Homo sapiens: one gene and its partner. The protein of the gene in region 1 purifies or fractionates together with the protein of each later gene. This does not show direct contact. Each region holds a gene or a part of one and is shown on either strand. Other genes may lie near its edges. The genes, in order: MDGA2 and SORT1.

The links.
Region 2: the proteins of MDGA2 (region 1) and SORT1 purify together in Homo sapiens (affinity purification with western blotting; one study listed by BioGRID). This does not show direct contact.

Annotation. Positions count from the first base shown.
Region 1 is NC_000014.9:47,056,551-47,060,382, forward strand, and holds part of MDGA2 (MAM domain-containing glycosylphosphatidylinositol anchor protein 2), read right to left. Parts: intron 2,831-3,832; exon of another isoform or gene 2,645-2,830; intron 2,447-2,644; exon of another isoform or gene 2,067-2,446; intron 1-2,066. UniProt on the Homo sapiens protein: May be involved in cell-cell interactions.
Region 2 is NC_000001.11:109,324,843-109,328,674, forward strand, and holds part of SORT1 (sortilin isoform 1 preproprotein), read right to left. Parts: intron 2,760-3,832; coding exon 2,657-2,759; intron 2,319-2,656; coding exon 2,150-2,318; intron 248-2,149; coding exon 57-247; intron 1-56.

The DNA of each region.
Region 1 (3,832 bases):
AGATGTCTCATCATGGGAATTCCACAGATCAGCAGTTTCACTGTTTAGGTTTTCGAGGCATGATGCAGATGCTTCTGAGTTTACTATAAACCTACAAGTTTGTCAAGTCATGCAAAGAAATAAGTGCAAGCTAATGAGCATCCAAGGACTCTACCATGGAATAATACTGGAAGAAGCAATGAGATATTTTGCAACAATGCCTTTGAAAATTAAGTCTACTGCTGTATAACGATTATATTTTTGCAAATGAGTGACAATCAAGTGACAATAATTAAGAATTTAACTTTCATCAAAATTTTAGGCTAAAATTCACATGCATTTTTCAGCAAGTATGTGAAGTTTTTTTATTTTGTAAAATTGAATTATAGCGTATAGTATATTTAATTATAGCATATAGTATATTTAATTTTTTAATTGAAACATTTATAACAATTTTAACTTACCTGCAGTCTAGCCAGATAAAATATAGCTTCAGTAATAAAAAACTATAAAGTTGTAATAAACCAATATAATTTGCTTATATTCATATCAATGAATATCAGCCCTACAGTAAAAACAATAATTATCACTTTAATATTCTTGAGACTTTCTTCATCCTCTATACTCTGCCAAATATATCCTCCTTCCACTGTCACTAGCGCAATGCTACTTTTGTCAAGTTTTAACTCAAATGTCATTTCTCTGTAAAAGTTTCTTATACCCACATGAACAAAAAATTCACAATTTCTACAGAAGTCCGATCAAGCTTTAAGCACAGTATGCAACCACTATATATTGCCTAGTTTCTACGTAATCTGTCTTGATGATTTAGATTGTAAGCTCCTTAAGGGCAAGGCCTATTTGTACTATCACCATATAACACAGAGTGTATATGTAGCAATAACACAGGAAAGAAATCTAAAGGAAACACTAATTTTAAATTAAAAAAAAAATACTCCCAATGAAACAATTTGCATGTTTAAAGATGAAAGTAAGACAACCTATAATCACATATATCATAGTTTTTATCAATCAAATTCAAACTCCAAAACACATGAGGCCTCTCTTTTCTTCTTTCCTTTTCTTTCCCTCCTCTCCCCTCCCCTCCCCTCCTTTCCCCTCCCCTCCCCTCCTTTCCCCTCCCTTCTTCTCTCCTCTCCAATCTGCCTTGCCTTGCCTTACCTTGCCCTGCCCTACCTTGCCCTGCCCTGCCCTGCCTTGCCTTGCCTTGCCTTGCTTTTTTGAGACAGAGTCTTGGTCTGTCAACCAGGTTGAAGTGAAGTGGTACCATGATAGCTCACTGCAGCCTCAAACTTCTGGCCTAAAGGGATCCTCCTGAGTCAGCCTCCCAGATTGCTGGGATTACAGTGTGAGCCACCATGCCTGGCCCTAAACTGTCTTCTAAAATCAGATCATTGTCTTTTGAGAATATGAATAATTCTGTAAATTAGGATTTACTTCCCTGAAATATTTTGTATTTCAATTTTAAAAGTCATCAAAAACATATGTTGAAATGTGGCTCTGTCATTTAAGAAAAATGATTTTCTGTCTCAGGTAAAAATGCCTTGTGGTATCTCAGCCTCTACTTAAAAAATATCATTATATGACTCTTAAAACACAGTAACACTCAAATTGAATGATGAAGAATTAAAGAGAGAGGAAAAAGAAACAACAGAGTAACAATTGAGATTCGATGTAAGATTTTATATGAAAAACAAAAAGCTCAGAAATTTTCAAAATGTTTTAAAATGTCACCCTAAAATGCCTTATATTTAACATAAAGAAATGCTTAGCCCACAAGTCAGCTACTGACCATTTGGTCAATGCTCAATTTCTTATAATAGAAATACTAGCAAAACCAAGAATCTAACACATCACCACATATATATTTATGTCTTACATTGTTGCTTCCTTTTCTTTGACTCACTCATCCCATTTGTGTGAATTTCCTCAGTATCCTCCAGGGTTCATAAAATTGATATAATCCAAGATTTCCTTGTATGCTATAGCTTATTCATTTTCACTGTTCAAACTATATCCTAGAATACACCTATTTTCATATTAAAGCACTTTAGTCTTCAATAGTATTGGGATAAATATCATTTTAATGATGTCAGTTGAATCATACAATCTCAGATTTATAGAACTTTATACTGCATTCTAGTATTCCACTCTATTGTAAGCAAATTGGAACATCAAAGGTCAGTTTTGGCTTGAAGACAGAATATGTAATCATCTTCAGTAACTCATTCTTTAGGTTAGGCATCATCTTCTGTAGGCCTTCTATCACAATAAAATCTCCTAGGCCATCTAGCCTCAAGAGCCTGCCATCCGTGTAGCCACACTTAGAACAGCCCCAAATTTGCTTTAATGCTTTGATGTTGCCATAGTGAGTTTATTAATTTTTGAACAAGGGGCATGCATTTTTATTTTCACTGGACACCACAAATTGAGGAGCTGCTCCTGTCTTTGGGAGTGATAAAACATTAAGTCACTATAAATTTGTCTATCAAATAACTTTAAGTCAGTAGGGAATTACAATAAGGGCAGTAAGAGGCACAGCAAATGTCTATATTATAGAGACAATGGGAGGGGAGAAAACCTAAAATGAAAGGTGTATGCATAAATTAGTCATTTTGTTAGTTAATAATTATCTGTTTAGTACCTTCTATGTGCCATGTATTGTTTCGGCTATTGAGATTATAGCAATGAGTGATGCAGACAAAGTCTCAGACTTTGTAGAGCTTCCATTCTATGGAGAAACCACATCTATCTGTAGTTAAGTGGGTACTTTCCAGGGGTAGTGTTTTGGAAGAAGTCAATATATTTCTTTTATCTCCAATAGTGTTACCTTGGGTAGCCAGGCAAATTAATGATAGTTAGGAAAATTTAATGATTACAACCAATCTCTTATTACTAATCTTGAATTTTCTTTAAAGGATTGGTGGAAATTTCACAAATCAATGTTGGTCATCTTTACTATTTTGTCATATATAACACATAGTTTCAAACAGGCAATATAACTAGTATGTTTAAAAATAAATGTTAGGGCTCGTTTTGTGAGCCCTGTATATAATGCTGCTTTCTTGTCTCCATTCTGTGCTCCATCTTTTGTCTAAGTTTAATGGTATATAAACTGTGCTCCCATCAAAGGAGTTCTTTTAGATAAAAGCATTGATTCTTTGGATCTGAGCTTTGTGTCACTGGTTCTGTAAAGGAAACAAACAAAAAAAACCCAGCCAAACCAAACCAAACAAAGAAATGGTTTTGATTAAGTCTAGAACATTTATGGGAAACTATCCCTCAGAAAATGAGGACAAATTATCCTGGATCTACAAAATTTGCTCTTACTCTCTTACAGGAAATATTATATTGGAATGTCATACAGTACAGTGTACAGTGTCACCTAGCACACTGAGGTGAAGAATCAATGGATATTTGTTGATTGAATGAATACATAAACAAGTGATAACTGACTGTGTGTATCAACAGTTTTCCCTCAGATATCCTAAAATAATCCATCTCTTAGCGCTAGCACCAACGTTTAAATATGTTAGAATTTTTTTAAAAATGTTTTTATTGTCTCTAGCTTTTTTTTAAGCTAGAAAAGAAATAATGTCCAAACACAAGTACTTTTCATCACCCTAATTTCCTTTTGTTTTAGTGATAGATGATAAAAATTGAATATCTTCTAGGAACAAAGCACAATTGTGCAAAGTTAGCACATTTTTGTTAGCCTGAATCATAAACTTCTATTCTTAAGGAGTAAAATCAATCCAGTGTTCACTGCAATTTGGAACCATGAGAAGGCACAAAATTATAGGTGAATACTTCAAAGTACAAGATACAAAAC
Region 2 (3,832 bases), on another chromosome or scaffold:
ATTTAGGAAAATGGACTTGGAAGTTTCTGGTAGAAAAGGTCAAAGGAGACACTCACAGTTCCTTTCAAGGATATCTTTAAAATCAATGGTGTAGGAGACCCACTGGCTGGTCAGGAAAGATTCTGTGAAGCCCCAAATGCTGATATTCATGGACCTAGCTCCAGGTTCTGAAGCTAGGCCAGTGAAATAGATGGGGTCCCTGGTGAACGTGTAGGTTTGCCAGCATTGACCTTCGTCTGTGGAGAACCTGAAACCACAATTACAGAAAGATCATGACAGAGGATCAATGTGTACTGGGAATTCAGAAAACCACTCTGGCTTTTTGATCCCAAACCAGACAAAACCCCTTACATTTAGGTGGTGGCTTATTGGCTGACAATTATTTTAACTTTTTTTTTTTTTTTTTTTTTTTCTGAGATGGAGTCTCACTCTGTCACCGGGCTGGAGTGCAGTGGCGCGATCTCGACTCACTGCAACCTCTGCCTCCTGGGTTCAAGTGATTCTCTCTCATGCCTCAGCCTCCTGAGTAGCTGGGATTACAGGAACGTGCCACCACACCAGCTAATTTTTGTATTTTTAGTAGAAATGGAGTTTCACATGTTGGGCAGGCTGGTCTTGAACTCCTGACCTCAGGTAATCTTCCCACCTTGGCCTCCCAAAGTGCTGGGATTATAGGCGTGAGCCACCGCACCCAGCCAACTATTTTAACTTTTAACGTCTGTAGTTAACAGGATAAGGAAGAGATTTGTTCAGAGAGAATATGAAAGTAAATACCTTTACAGAAATTATTTCAAAGGAAAGACAGGAGAGTGACCCAGGTAAGAACTGGCTTTTAAATTAATAAATTTAAGGCTGGCTGTGGTGGCTCACGCCTGTAATCCCAGAATTTTGGGAGGCTGAGGCAGGTGAATCACCTGAGGTTAGGAGTTCGAGACCAGCCTGACCAACACAACAAAACCCCGTCTCTACCAAAACACAAAAAACAAAGCAAAACAAAAAACCACAAAAATTAGCTGGGTGTGGTGGTGCATGCCTGTAATCTCAGCTGCTCAGGTGACTGAGACGCAAGAATCATTTGAACCTGGGAGGCAGAGGTTGCAGTGAGCCAAGATTGCACCATTGCACTCCAGCCTGGGTGACAAGAGCAAAACTCCATCTCAATAAATAAATAAATAAATAACAATCAAATTATTTTATAAGAACTTATACTTCTTTTTTTTTTTTTTTTGAGACGGGATCTCACTCTGTCACCCAGGCTGGAGTGCAGTGGTACGATCTCAGCTCACTGTGGCCTTGACCTCCTCAGGTGATCCTCCCACCTCGGCCTCCCAAGTAGCTGGAACCAAAGGCGTGCACCACCACGCCCAGCTAATTTTTCTTTTTTTTTTTTTGTGGAGACAGGGTTTTGTCACATTGCCCAGGCTGGTCTTGAACTCTTGGGCTCAAGCAATCCACCCACCTTGGCCTCTCAAAGTGCTGGGATTACAGGTGTGTGCCTCTGCACCCAGCTCAGAACTTGTACTTAAGAAGTCATTTTCAATCTAGAGTGCTTGAACGCTTCCATAATAATTTTGTAGACAGAAAGAATATATATATATATATATATATATATATATATATATACATACACACACACACACACATATATATACACACATATATACACACATACACATATATATACACATATATATACATATATATACACATATATATACACACACACACATACATATATACACACACACATATATATATATATGGTTTTTTTTTTGATTGAAATAATATTAGAGACAAGGGACAAGGTCTCCCTATGTTGCCCAGGCTGGTCTTGAACTCCTGGCCTCAAGCGATCCTCCTGCTTTGGCCTCCCAAAATGCTGGGATTACAGGCATGAGCCACTGCGCCCAACCCAGAAAGAATGTTTTTAAGAAGTGACAAATATGTTAGCTAAAGGCAGTCAGAAGAAAAAACAATGCCATTTAATCTGAGTTGCCAATTAAAAGCAATCCTTTCTAGAATCTTATCTATAGTTCTGTCAAATGCAAAAATTTGAATTATAGTCTGTAACATCCCCCCAATAAACTGAAGAACATTCCCCCAGTTGCCCTCTATGCAGACAGTGTGTGTGAGATGAGTTCATGCATACTTAATCACATTGATAGGACGGCTGCTGTGCTCAATGGCCACAATGATGCCTCCAGAATCCAGGATGGTGTAATAGTGGGGTCCTTCCAGCATCTTTGTCCAGGAGTAACCCCCATCATCTGAGATGTACACATCTGGAACCATCACTGAGATGGCATCCCCCACGCTACCTGCAATATAATCCACCATCTCATTAGCACAAATAGGCAATGAAACAGAGAGCATTTACTCCAGAGAGAATAATGTTGAATGAATTTATTCTGATTATTTCCCATCAAGCCTCTTTTAGTAGGAAAGAAAACCACCAAAAACTTCGGAGAAGTTGTGTTGCTCTCTCTGATAAAAGTTGATGAAAAACCCAAAGTGTTGTTATAATGTAAGAAATTCTACCAAAGGAATGTAAAAGCATCCACATTGTTTCTTCTCAGAGCGTTCAAAGCCTGTTGGCTGAGTTTCAGTGTGCTCAGCCACTGTTCCAGTTGGAGGTGGTGAGTGGGAGGTTCCTTACCATGAGCAATGACAATGCCTACGGCATTCGGCTCTGAGAGTGGGGCCATTGGAACATTCAGTTTCTGGGAGATGCTGTAGGAAGCATGAATATGAAGGCTGCACTGTGAAAAGAAACAAAAGCGTAGATTAGAACCAAAGATAAAGATACAATTTCTTTAATCATTTCACAAAACCCTTCCAATAAAGCTTTAAGTTAACCCAGACCTAGGTAAAAGTACTATCTTAACTATTTATTTACTATTTAGGTGTATAGTTCAGTAGTGTTAAGTATATTCACATTGTTGTACAACCACATCTCTAAACTTTTTCATCTTATAAAATACAATCACCAATTAAGCAACTGTTACCTACTTCTTCCTCCTCCCAGCTCCTGGAAACTACCATTTTACTTTGTGTTTTCTATGATTTTTACCATATTACTTTGTGTTGGCTACTCTAGGTAGCTCATATAAGTAGAATCACATAATATTTGTCATTTTGTGTCTGACTTATTTCACTTGGCATAATGTCCTCAAGGCTCATCCATGTTGTATTAATAGCATATGTCAGAATTTCCTCCCTTTTAAAGGCTAAATATTATTTAAGTGTGTGTGTGTATCTGTATCCACACACACCCCACACTTTATTTACTCATTTATCTGTCAATAGACACAAGTTGCTTCTACCTTTTGGCTATCATGAATAATGTTGCTATGTACATGGTTGTACAAATATCTTTTTGAGAACCTGCTTTCAACTCTTTTGGATGTATAATCCAGAAGTGGAATTGCTGGATATGATAATCCTATTTTTAATTTTTTTTAGGAACTACTATGCTGTTTTCTGTAGCAGCTGCACCATTTTACATTTTCACCAAAAGTGCACCAGGGCTCCAATTTCTCCATATCCTTGCCAACACTTTTTAAAATAGTAGCCACCCTAATCTGTGTGAGGAGATACCTCATTGTGGTTTTGACTTGCATTTTCCTAATGATTAGTGATGCTGAGCCTCTTTTTATATGCTTGTTAGTCACTTCTATATTGTGTTTGGAGAAATGTCTATACAAGTTCTTTGCCTATTTTTTATTCAGGCTATTTGTTTGTTGTTGAGTTGTAGCTCAGTGGCATACTCTTGATTCTGAAATGTACTACAATATCTGGAAGCAAATATTTCCTCATGGGTAACCTGTCTCCG